Linked DNA regions of Homo sapiens: region 2 is linked to region 1. Evidence: fine-mapped expression QTL. A gene starts in region 1. The other region holds a variant in brackets. All regions are shown on one strand. Distances are between the middles of the regions.

Evidence for each region. PIP is the estimated chance that this variant, and not a neighbour inherited with it, causes the effect.
Region 2: its variant is fine-mapped to the expression of ELF4 in whole blood (TOPMed, PIP above 0.99).

The regions. Positions count from the first base shown.
Region 1 is chrX:130,108,041-130,113,413 of GRCh38, reverse strand. ELF4 (E74 like ETS transcription factor 4) reads left to right here and starts at 2,917. Exons shown (of 9, transcript NM_001421.4): 1 at 2,917-3,089. It also overlaps a transcript of RAB33A not described here. RefSeq lists silencers at 2,186-2,305, 2,376-2,425, 2,436-2,485, 2,736-2,885, 2,966-3,035.
Region 2 is chrX:130,327,489-130,332,861 of GRCh38, reverse strand. It overlaps the pseudogene LOC112268303. Among named protein-coding and RNA genes, the nearest start is that of SLC25A14, 9.7 kb to the left of the region's middle. The variant G/A (reference allele first, on the strand shown) is at 2,707.

The DNA.
Region 1 (5,373 bases):
GTATAACTGGATTGTATATAACACAAAGAAAGAGGCCGGGCGCAGTGGCTCACGCCTGTAATCCCAGCACTTTAGGAGGCCGAGGCGGGTGGATGACGAGGTCAGGAGATCGAGACCATCCTGACTAACACAGTGAACCCCTGCCTCTACTAAAAAATACAAAAAATTAGCCGGGCATGGTGGCGGGTTCCTGTAGTCCCAGCTACTCAGGAGGCTGAGGCAGGAGAATGGCATGAACCCGGGAGGTGGAGCTTGCAGTGAGCCGAGATCGCGCCACTGCACTCCAGTCTGGGAGAAAGAGCGAGACTCCATCTCAAAAAAAAAAAAAAAAAAAAAGAAGGAAAAAAAAAAAAGAAAAAGAAAACACACAAAGAAAGGAGAAATGCTTGAGGTGACAGATACCCCATTTACCCTGATGTGATTATTACACATTGCATGCCTGTATCAAAACATCTCATGTAACCCATAAATACACACACCTACAATGTACCCATAAAAATAAAAAACAAAAATAAAAAAATTAATTTATTTAATTTATTTATTTTTTTGAGATGGAGTCTCACTGTGTCATCCAGGCTGGAGTGCAGTGGCACGATCTCGGCTCACTGCAACCTCTGCCTCCCAGGTTCAAGTGACTCTCCTGCCTCAGCCTCCCGAGTAGCTGGAACTACAGGCATGCACCACCACACCGGCTAATTTTTGTATTTTTAGTAGAGATGGGGTTTCACCATGTTGGCCAGGCTGGTCTTGAACTCCTGACCTCAAGTGATCCACCCCGCTCGGCATCCCAAAGTGCTGGGATTACAGGCATGAGTCACCACACCCAGCCTAGTTTTTGTTTTTGTTCTGTTTTAAAGAAGAAAAGTGAGGCTCAGAGAGTTTAAGTGACTTGCCTGAAGTCACACAGCTGGTAAATAGTGAGCTGGAATAGGAACCCAGGTCTGTCTGAGGTTACAGACCACTGAGCTCTTAGCAAAATGGGAAAGTGTGTGTGTGTGCACGCGTGTGCAGACGTGTCTGTCCATTCGTGAATTTCAAAGTCAAGGTAAAGAGGGCTTAGGGACATCCGGAACCTACCCCAAATTTGAGAGGGGACCTCGTGGATGAGAGGCCAGCAGAGAACTGTGTGTCTCCAGGATCTGGAATCCCCTGGGAAAAGCATGCCCGCTTGGAAAAGACAAAGTGCTTGTTTTGGGGACTTGATTCTGAGTATCCAGGAGGTCTCAGGGGCCGGCGCCCCAGTCCAGCCACAGGATCTTTCCTTGGGAACTTGTAATCTGCAGCTGCCTTTGTGGCCATCATCCACCACCACTCCTGTCCCCCAGTCCTGCGCCTGAGATGATCCTTTCCCAAGGCAGGAGAAGCAGGCCGATGCTGGAGGCTGAGTAGGTCCTTCAACCTCAAGCCCTTTAGAAGGCCCCATCCCCTGGGGCTCCTTCAGTCTTGATGCTTTCTGCCAAGGCTTAGGCCTTGCTGCCCCCACCCCCAAAAAGGCCACGTGGAACTATACAGAGTAACAATTCCCAGCGCACTCTCTCCAGAGCCTCCTATCAGCAGACCCACGTAGGCGGCGGTATTGATGTTGAGGCAGGTCAGAGAGGGCAAAGGGGAGATAGAAGGGGAGCGTGCCTGAGTGGCTTTCAAGTGGGCGCGTGGAGCAGAGCAGCCTGGCTTTGGACAGGGGAAGAAAGGTAGGCATGGGCTTTCTTCCAGCACCCGAACTCTGGCTCTCTTTGCACTTGCTGGGCCAGCCCCTCTCCCCCTAGCCCTTCCCCTGACTCATATCTTGCCAGCGTCCCCCACCCCAACTTCCCGCAGGAGTCCTAGACTCGACTTCCCTAAGAAGTCGCCGAAACTCTCCAGTCACCCCAGGTGTTACGCCCAGGATTCTGCGGAGTCGGGCATATGGTTCCAAAATTGTATCCTCTGGGCATCTCGCGGCCTCACCCGCCGCACGGCCCGCCCTCCCGCTGGGGCCTGCACACCCCAGGAGCTCAATAATGTGGAGCGCAGGGCTTGGCCCAAAGGCGTCAAGCAAGTCTCCACTTGCACGGGCCGAGGGGGCTGGACGAAACCTTCCCGAGTCCGCGGGGAAGGGATTTCTCTGCGGGGCGTTGTATGGGGGCTTCGCACCGGGAAGGGCGCGGAACGAGCAGAGAGCTCGGAGTCTCGCTGGCTAGAAGCAGAGTGGGGAGCGCCCGCCCGGGCCGCGGCGCACGACGCGGGCTCTGCGGGCGCCCTGCCTCGTGGTCCCCCGGGCGCGAGCGAGCCGCGAGGGGAATGAGAGGCCGCGCGGGCCCCTGGCACGGCTCCCCATGCCGTGCTGGCGACCGCGGCGGGCGGGCCGGGGCGGACGGGCGCTGTTTCCACCGAGATGCCTCGTCCCTCCCTCGTTCCCTCCCCCACCCCGCCCGCCCGCAGTCCCTCCCGTCGGTCCCTCCCTCCGGCTCTTCCCTCCCTCCCGCCCTGCCTCCTTCGCGCCCGCCCCATCCGCCGCCTGCGGGGACGTGTGTGTCTCTACTGCATTTCCCCTTTCGCTCGCTCGTTTCGGTGCATGTCTGCGCCGGTTCGCGCCCCCTCCCCGGGCGCCCCTGCCGCCCCGTGTCTTGGCCCGGCCCTCCCCGGCGTCCGCCCCGCTCCCCGCGCGCTCCACCCCGCCCCCCGCCCCGTTTTATCAGGGGCGCCGCCGTCTCACCTGGTATTTGCATCTCTCCCTCCAACTTGCCATTGGCGGCGCGAAGTGTGGGAGAGCCCTGCGCCTCGCCCGCCCGGACCAGCCTGCCCCGGCGCCGAGGTGAGTCACGGGCGCGGGGTGGCGGGGGCAGGCGGGCGGGGAAGAAGGGCGGGCGGGGAGGAGGGCGGGGGACGGCGGCCCCGGCGGCCGCGGGGACCGACCGGGCGCCGCGCTCAACTTCCACTTCTCCTTTCGCCGGCGCCGAGTTCCTGGCGCCGCTCGCCCGGCCCGGCTTCCGAGGGGAGAGGACGGGCTGGCGGGGCTGGGGACCCGCGTCTCGGCCCCCGGAGCGGGGACCACGGAGACAGACCCCGGCCCGGCGACCGAGCTGGGCCCGTGAGCCACTCGGCCTCAGGTACGTCGATGGCGCCGGTTCTTCGAGCCTTGGGGGACGTGGAAAAGTTTGCTTGAGGGCGGAATCGAGAGCGCCGGGGCCCCGGCGTGGGGCTGGGGGCCCAGGGAAGGGCGGGAGAGTCGCGGAGTGTCGCGAGCCGCCCTGGAGTCGCCCCGCCGCGCGTGTGATGGAGAACCCGGGCTCCCGATCCCGGGATGGAAGTGGAATGGATTCCCCGAGTCGGGGAGTCGGGGTAGGGGCCCCTGTTTTCCCTCGCCCCCGGCAGCCTGGGTTCCGTGACGGGGCCGATCATGACAGCGGGCCCCCAGAAGCTGGGCGCCCGAGGGCAGAGGAGGTGGGGCGGACCGCGGCGGAGCTGCTAGATGGATCCGACTGCCCCCGGGGCTTCTGGGGCCAGGGCTTTAGGGTCACACGCACACACGCGCACGCAGACCTATGATGTGGAGAACTGGATCGCCAAAATAGAGACCTCTTGGCAGGGGCCGGAGTTTCCGTGTGAGCCAGCCGCCAGCCTTCCCGCTCCCGCGTTCCCGCTCTCCCCGACTCTCCCGCCTCCGGGTTCCCTCCTGGGCCGCCGCCTAGGGGATTCAGCAGCCGCACCGTGCGGGGTCCCCTCACGCCAGCGCCTTGCTTTGGAGGCTTGAGGGACTGCTGAGGCGGTGACCGCTTTATGAATTCCTGGCTCCTCCACCGCACCCTAACCCTGACTCCCTTTTCTCACCACCGTATGCCTGCACATCACCTTCCTGACCAGAGTCACCTCCTGACCCCTTGGCACCTCGGCTCAGCGAGGTCCTCCTGGGCCGCCCCCGCCCCGCACCATACCCCAGCTGAGGGATTTGATGGCCATTTGATTCCTGCCCCTCATCCCTCGGCCTGTGATAGAGGCCTGTCTGGTCCTGCAGCCTCTTCTGGTTAATGTTTGACAGTTCATTGTGGCTAATTATTTTAATTAGCTCTTAAAGTGGGAAAGAACAGTTAACCTTGGACTTCTCGATTTTGGCCTGGTGGGGCCTCAAATGGGAGGAGTGCTGGGGAGGTGGGGAGGTAGGAGCGGAAGTGAGGTCACCACCCCAGGGCCTGAACCACCACTGCTCAGCCCCAACAGCTGGTGGGCACGCCCATTGGGGACTCACCCCCTGCCAGCTGACCCCTGGCCCGAGTGCCAGGTTGGAGGTGGGTGAAGGGAACAGTTCTAGCTCTTCCCTTTGGGGAGACTTTGGCACTGAAAATGCCCGGGGAACACATATGCCCAGCAAGAATGCCAGTCCTTCCTTGCAGTTAGTTACACTGGGTTTTCCTGGTTATAAAGTGCTTTCTCAACCATTAATTCAGATTCAGTGCATCCAGTACAGGAGCAGCGTAGGGGGAGCTCTCTGGAGTTCAGTGAAGATTATCAGGGAGGACTTCCTATCCCAGCCAGCTGGTGTGAGGAAGAGGCTACCTTGCATCTGGTTGTTTTTGGGGCTGGATTCAGAGCCTGGGATCTCTTGTTGGGGGCAGGGGTGGGGGGGACCATGAAGCAGGCTCCATGCTACCACCCTCACCCAGCCTCTTGCTGTGAGCCGAAGGAGTGGCTTGTTTGCAACTATGTCTGGCATTCCTCCCTGTGCTGCACTGTTTGCTCGGTGGTTGCTCAGGAACTGGCGCCCACCCCTGGACAACCTAGGGGCCCAAAATTCACTCTCCCTCACCTAGTGCTAAGTGGTGACACAGTGGCTTCTGTCTTCTCTGGCATATATTGGGATCTAAAATAGAGGGTGCTGTGGTCTGTCTCTAGGGGCCTGAGTGATAGCATGTCCAAAATGCCCCTCATCTTGCAAAAATCAGGCCCTGTGCCGCACAGACCCAGCTAGACACAGGCTGAGGAGTTTGCTTTCCTGGGGAAACCTCTGCTCTTCTGCTCTTAAGCTTGGCCTTCTTCCTTTCCACATCCCCTACCCCCGCAATGTAATTTTACATCCAGTTTTTGTTTTTGCGTTTAGAGTGTTGTTTTTTTTTTGGTTTTTGTTTTTTAATTCAGGGTCTCACTTTGTCACCCAGGCTGGAGTGCAGTGGCACAGTCACAGCTCACTGTAATCTTGAACTCCTTACCTCCAGTTCTTTTTTTTTTTTTGAGATGGAGTTTCACTCTTGTTGCCCAGGCTGGAGTGCAATGGCACGATCTTGGCTCGCCGCAACCTCCGCCTCCCAGGTTCAAGTGATTCTCCTGCCTCAGCCTCCCGAGTAGCTGGGATTACAGGCATGTACCACCACGCCCGGCTAATTTTGTATTTTTGGTAGA
Region 2 (5,373 bases), 220 kb before region 1:
AGAATAAAAAGAATGGTCCTAAGAAACTAATGGTCTATTAATTTTTAGTGGCAATCCATATTTCTAGTGATGCTTTTAGAAAACAATGTAACAAAACATTTAAAAGTCATGCTAATATTACTAATATTTACACCTTGCATCTCAATTGGGTAAGTATCCAATTTGATGCATATCCTAGTAAATTTTTAGGTACCAAACAAAAATTGAACTGATATTCATAACATAATGGTTTATTTATCTATTTTTCCTGGCTATCATGTGCCTTATATTTTCATAATGAAAAAGGGTACCAATTGTTTAAATGTCTTTAAAAACTACCCATCTACCTATATAGCAAGTTTTAACATGATTCTTCGAGTCATCCCTTACCCAAAAAATTCATCTGATTCTCTACCCTGTAATGTATACTTCATATAAACGTCTATAATCCTTTATTCATCACCTTCTATAACGTTATCGGTAGCCTCACTGGTGTTTTCTTCTTTAAATCTGCTACTCTAAAACAAAGTTCAGCCATTTTTTTCTTTTAAATGGCAAGACATTAAATATTCTAGGCTGTACCTGTCATTCGATCAGTCACAACTACTCAAAGTTGCCACTGTAGCACCAATGCAACCACAGATCACATGTAATAAGTGAACATGGTTGTGTTCCAATAAAATTTCAGGCCAGATATGTTACCAACCGCTGCTCTAAAGAAATCCTAAACTAGTATTGTTTAGGTAGAACTAGCAGTTGAGACTAGAATAAAATAGGATATAATTAAATATCAGAAAATTAAATGGTCCTACTTGCAGACCATAATGTATGATTTAAATATTATACTTAGAAATTTACAAGAATGTGTGAACTGAACTGATAAGCTAAAGAATTTCTAGGTTAAAAAAAATCAAACGTACCCACCTATTCAATGAAAAATTGTCTTACTCTTGGGGAAGAGCTTGGGACAATGATCAGATTCCACCATCTGCTTGCAACCAAGCCCATGCAATTACTAGAAAATGTTGGATACTGGCCAGGTGCAGTGGATCACGCCTGTAATCCCAGCACTTTGGGAGGCCAAGGCAGGCAGATCACCTGAGGTCAGGAGTTCAATACCAGCCTCGGCAACATGACAAAACTCCATATCTACTAAAAGTACAAAAATTAGCTAGGCATGGTGGCATGCACCTGTAATCCCAGCTACTTGGGAGGCTGAGGCAGGAGAATCACTTGAACCCAGGAGGCGGAGGCTGAGGTGAGTCGAGATCAAGCCACTGTACTCCAGCCTGGGTGACTGAGTGAGACCCTGTCTCAAAACAAAAAAAACAAAAAACAAACAAACAAACAAAAAAAACTGAAAATGTTGGGTATAAATGATTCAACAAAGGAGAATTTCTCAGAAATTTCCTGTTTGTCTCCTTGGATTTAAACTCAAAATGGTGGCATAAATTGGCCTAATTAATTCAAGTTGAGGGGTAATATTGCAAAAAGACATAAAGAAAAGCTAGAAGAGAATTTATCAATAAACCGCCTTCCTCTCTGCTCTTATTTTATAAAAAGTAAATAGTAAACCCTCAGAAATGAGAGCATTCTAATCTTAAAGTCGAAAAAAAGAAAAATCCCAAAGGAAAAAAAAAAAGTAATAAATCAAAATCAACCTTGTAATAGCCTTTTCCTAAAAAATGAAAGCAGCAAACATAAAAAGACAGACTAAATGAATCTACATCACATTGAAAAATTACAGATTACATCTTTATTACATTGACTGGTTTTTCCTTGGAATCAGATTCCTTGCTGTTCCAATACGGCTTTAACCACTTCTTGATGTCTCAGTTAAGAATGCTTGTCTCAGTTCAGCCTGGAAATTCACCACAGGTGCTTGCTGCTGCTGAGAAGCCTCGGGTATAACTGACATTCTTGGTTCTCAGGAGGTGGTCCTTTTGCGTTTAACTTGGACTTCCACCTCTGGCACGTGCTGGTCTGTAGTCCGTCTCAGGTGTTAGTGATCCCTTGCTCTCTCCAGCACGCCACTGACAGCTCCTCGGGCATCAGAGACCTCTAGCGGCCAGCCGCTCTGCTCTGCCAACAAAGATTTAAACACACACAACACACACACACACACACACACAAAATCCCATTGCCCAGTGAAACACACGTTAATGCAATCTTTCTGGGATTTCTTTTTATGACAATTGTTTCTTCAAATAAAAGTTTTGTTTGTTCCCATGGAATTCTAAACATGCTTTTAAAGGAATAATATTTTAGAAATGTACTTACTTTGAAATACACAATTTTCCAAATAATATGCAGCCGTCAGAAATTATGCTTATGGGAGCTATGTAATAATAATTAATAAAACCTACCATCTATAGACTGCCTACTATATTCCAGAGACTTTACGTACAACAACTCTAATCCTTACAACAACCCTATGTAGCCTTTAGCATTTGACAGAACAGGTTTCGCCAGCTGTGTGGTCTTGCATAAGTATCCAATCACCCTGTCTTCAAGTTTCCTCACCTGTGAAAACAAGGATCTACCAGACCTATCTCTGGACTTACTGAGCATTCAAATGAGCTGATTCACATAAGGCACCTGGAACAGAGCCTGACACATCATAAGCACTCAATACCTGTCTATTATCACCAAAAAGGGGCGTGCCTTAAAATTTAAACATGACAGAATAAAATCAAACCATGACAAGTACCAGAAGAAGATGTAGGT[G/A]AACAGTATTATTATAACCCTGGGGTGAGCAAGACCTTTCTAAGCACACTACAAAAGGTAGAGACAGTAAAAGCAAAGGATTAATAAAACTGACCACTCAATGAAAAATCACTTCTGAACAGCAGAAAACACCACCAAGTTAGACGAAAAGCAATAAATTGGAGGAAAAAAAAAAAGGCAGGGCACGGTGGCTCACGCCTGTAATCCTAGCACTTTGGGAGGCTGAGGCAGGCAGATCAACTGAGGTCAGGAGTTCGAGACCAGTCTGGCCAACATGGCAAAACCCCGTCTCTACTAAAAATACAAAAATTAGCTGTGCATGGTGGCACACACCTGTAATCCCAGCTACTCGGGAGGAAGGGAAGGAGAATCACTTGAACCCGGGAGGCGGAGGTTCCAGTGAGCTGAGATCACACCACTGCACTCCAGCCTGGGCGACAGAGCAAGACTCTGTCTCAAAAAAAAAAAAAAAAAAAAAAGATTACATATTTGATGGACAAAAGGCTATTGTCTTTAATATACAGTGAGCTTTACAAGTTAAAAGAAACTTGTAAGTTTTTTTTAAAAAGAAACTTGTAAAGCTCACAGTACATTAAAGGGGAGGGGAGGGCAGTGAGAGATGAGATCAGGGAGGTACCAGGGGTGGGGAGATCAGATGGGGCTCTGTGTATCATGCTAAGGACTTTGGATTCTAAGTGTACAAACACTCAAAGATATTTTCCTTTAAAAATAGGCAAAGAACATAAACAGCAGAGCAGGACCGTTTGATGTGGCCATTTTATCCACAGGGACATTTTGATAAGCCCTGCTGACACAGCTATCCCTAACCTCCAGTCTAGTAGACTTTTCACTTTCTACTTTATTCCTTTCTGCATCATTTAAATTTTCTTCTATAAATGTGTGACTTGTCATCAGGGAAAAAGAAAGAAAGAAAAAACTTATTAGACAAGGTTAGCCTCTAAGAGGAAACCAAATCATCTTTATAAAATAAATTTTATGGTATTAAATATAACATTTGAAACTTAAGTCCTGAGAGAAAAGTTAAGAATTTAGTTGAGCATTTCCTCTATAGCCTAGAGCTGAAAATAAAATATCTTACTGTGTTCCAAATACCCTCCTTCTTCCCCTCCACCTACTGTCTATCTATATCTAATTCATTCATTCATTAGGCTCTTACTGAGCCCCAGCTTTGTGCCAGGCATGGTGCTAGGCTTCAGGACCTCCCAGCGAACCAGAAACAGTCCCTGCCCCCATGGTGCAGACAGTCTCATTGGGAGTTGGAGGAGGAGCAGGTAAAAAATAATTAAATATTCAGGTTAACGATATATTGTCAGGTGTGAGGAAAGGGCGCAGAGAATGGCAGGGGCAGCTGTTTTAGCTACAGTGGCCAGGAGGCCTCCAATGGAGTGATCTTTGAGCAGAGGCATGCAGGAGATGAGGGGACAGTGATGAGGATTTCTAAGAACACTCCAGGCAAAGACCTGAAGCAGGCAGGGGCCTGGTGTGTGTTCGCCAGCATGGCTGGAGCAGAGCCATGAAGGGGGAAGGCAGTGGGAGATGAAGGCAGGGAGTCCCCCGGGGGTGGGGAGATCAGGTGGGGCTCTGTGTATTATGCTAAGGACTTTGGATTCTGTTCCAAGAGCTGGAAAGGTTGACGTGATCGGGGGAAAGCAAGCCCACACAAAGCAGAGGTGTCCAGTCTTTATATTTTTAAATGAAAAAAAAAGAGTAACTTCCATTAAAACAAGTGACTCCTGGTTTTGTGTAATAGTAGACCAAATGGTGCCCAATCCCTAACCATCCCTTACTCCCATATCTAACCTGTACCTCAGAGTGGCAGTGGTTAGCAATAGAGAATTCTTCTGTTTGGTTGTTGTGAAGAAGGAGTTAACACAGTATGTTTGGTGGCTTACTCCTTGCATGTCTCCAAGCCACCCCTTGGGAATGTAGCCTTCAGCATGTTCTTTAGGTCACTGATGGATTGACTGTTTTGTTCTGTACACCTGGAGTAACGCACCATGCCATGGCATCTTGTTAGGGTTGCTTTGCCCAAACATCAAGATTGATGTATGTGAACCTGGTTTCGTTGTTGGAGTCCTGACCACAATCAGTGGCACAGTCTCGGCTCACTGCAACCTCTGCCTCCTGGGCTCAAGTGATTCTCCTGCCTCAGCCTCCCGAGCATCTAGGATTACAGGGACATGCCAACACGCCTGGCTAATTTTTGTATTTTTAACAGAGACAGGGTTTCACCATGTTGGCCGGGCTGGTCTCGAACCCCTGACCTCAAGTGATCTGCCAGCCTCGGCCTCCCAAAGTGCTGGGATTACAGGCATGAGCCACCGCGCCCAGCCTCCTGAGTTTCAATTGCCATGGCCAGTTGTGCATATATGACTAAGCATTCCATCAGAGCCTCAGACCTTGAGACTTGAAACAGCCTTCACTGGGCACAGATATTCCACACATGTCCCTGAAGTTCACTGCTACAAGAAATTGAAAGGGGAACTATAAAGTATTGTAAACTAAAAGAAAAATGAAAAAGCAACATAATTAAAGCTGTGGGATGCAGCTCAAGCAGTACTCAGAAGAGTATTCAAATCACTAAATCCCTATATTAGAAAAGCTGAAAGCCCGCAAATCAATGACCTCAGCTTTGCTCTTAAGAAA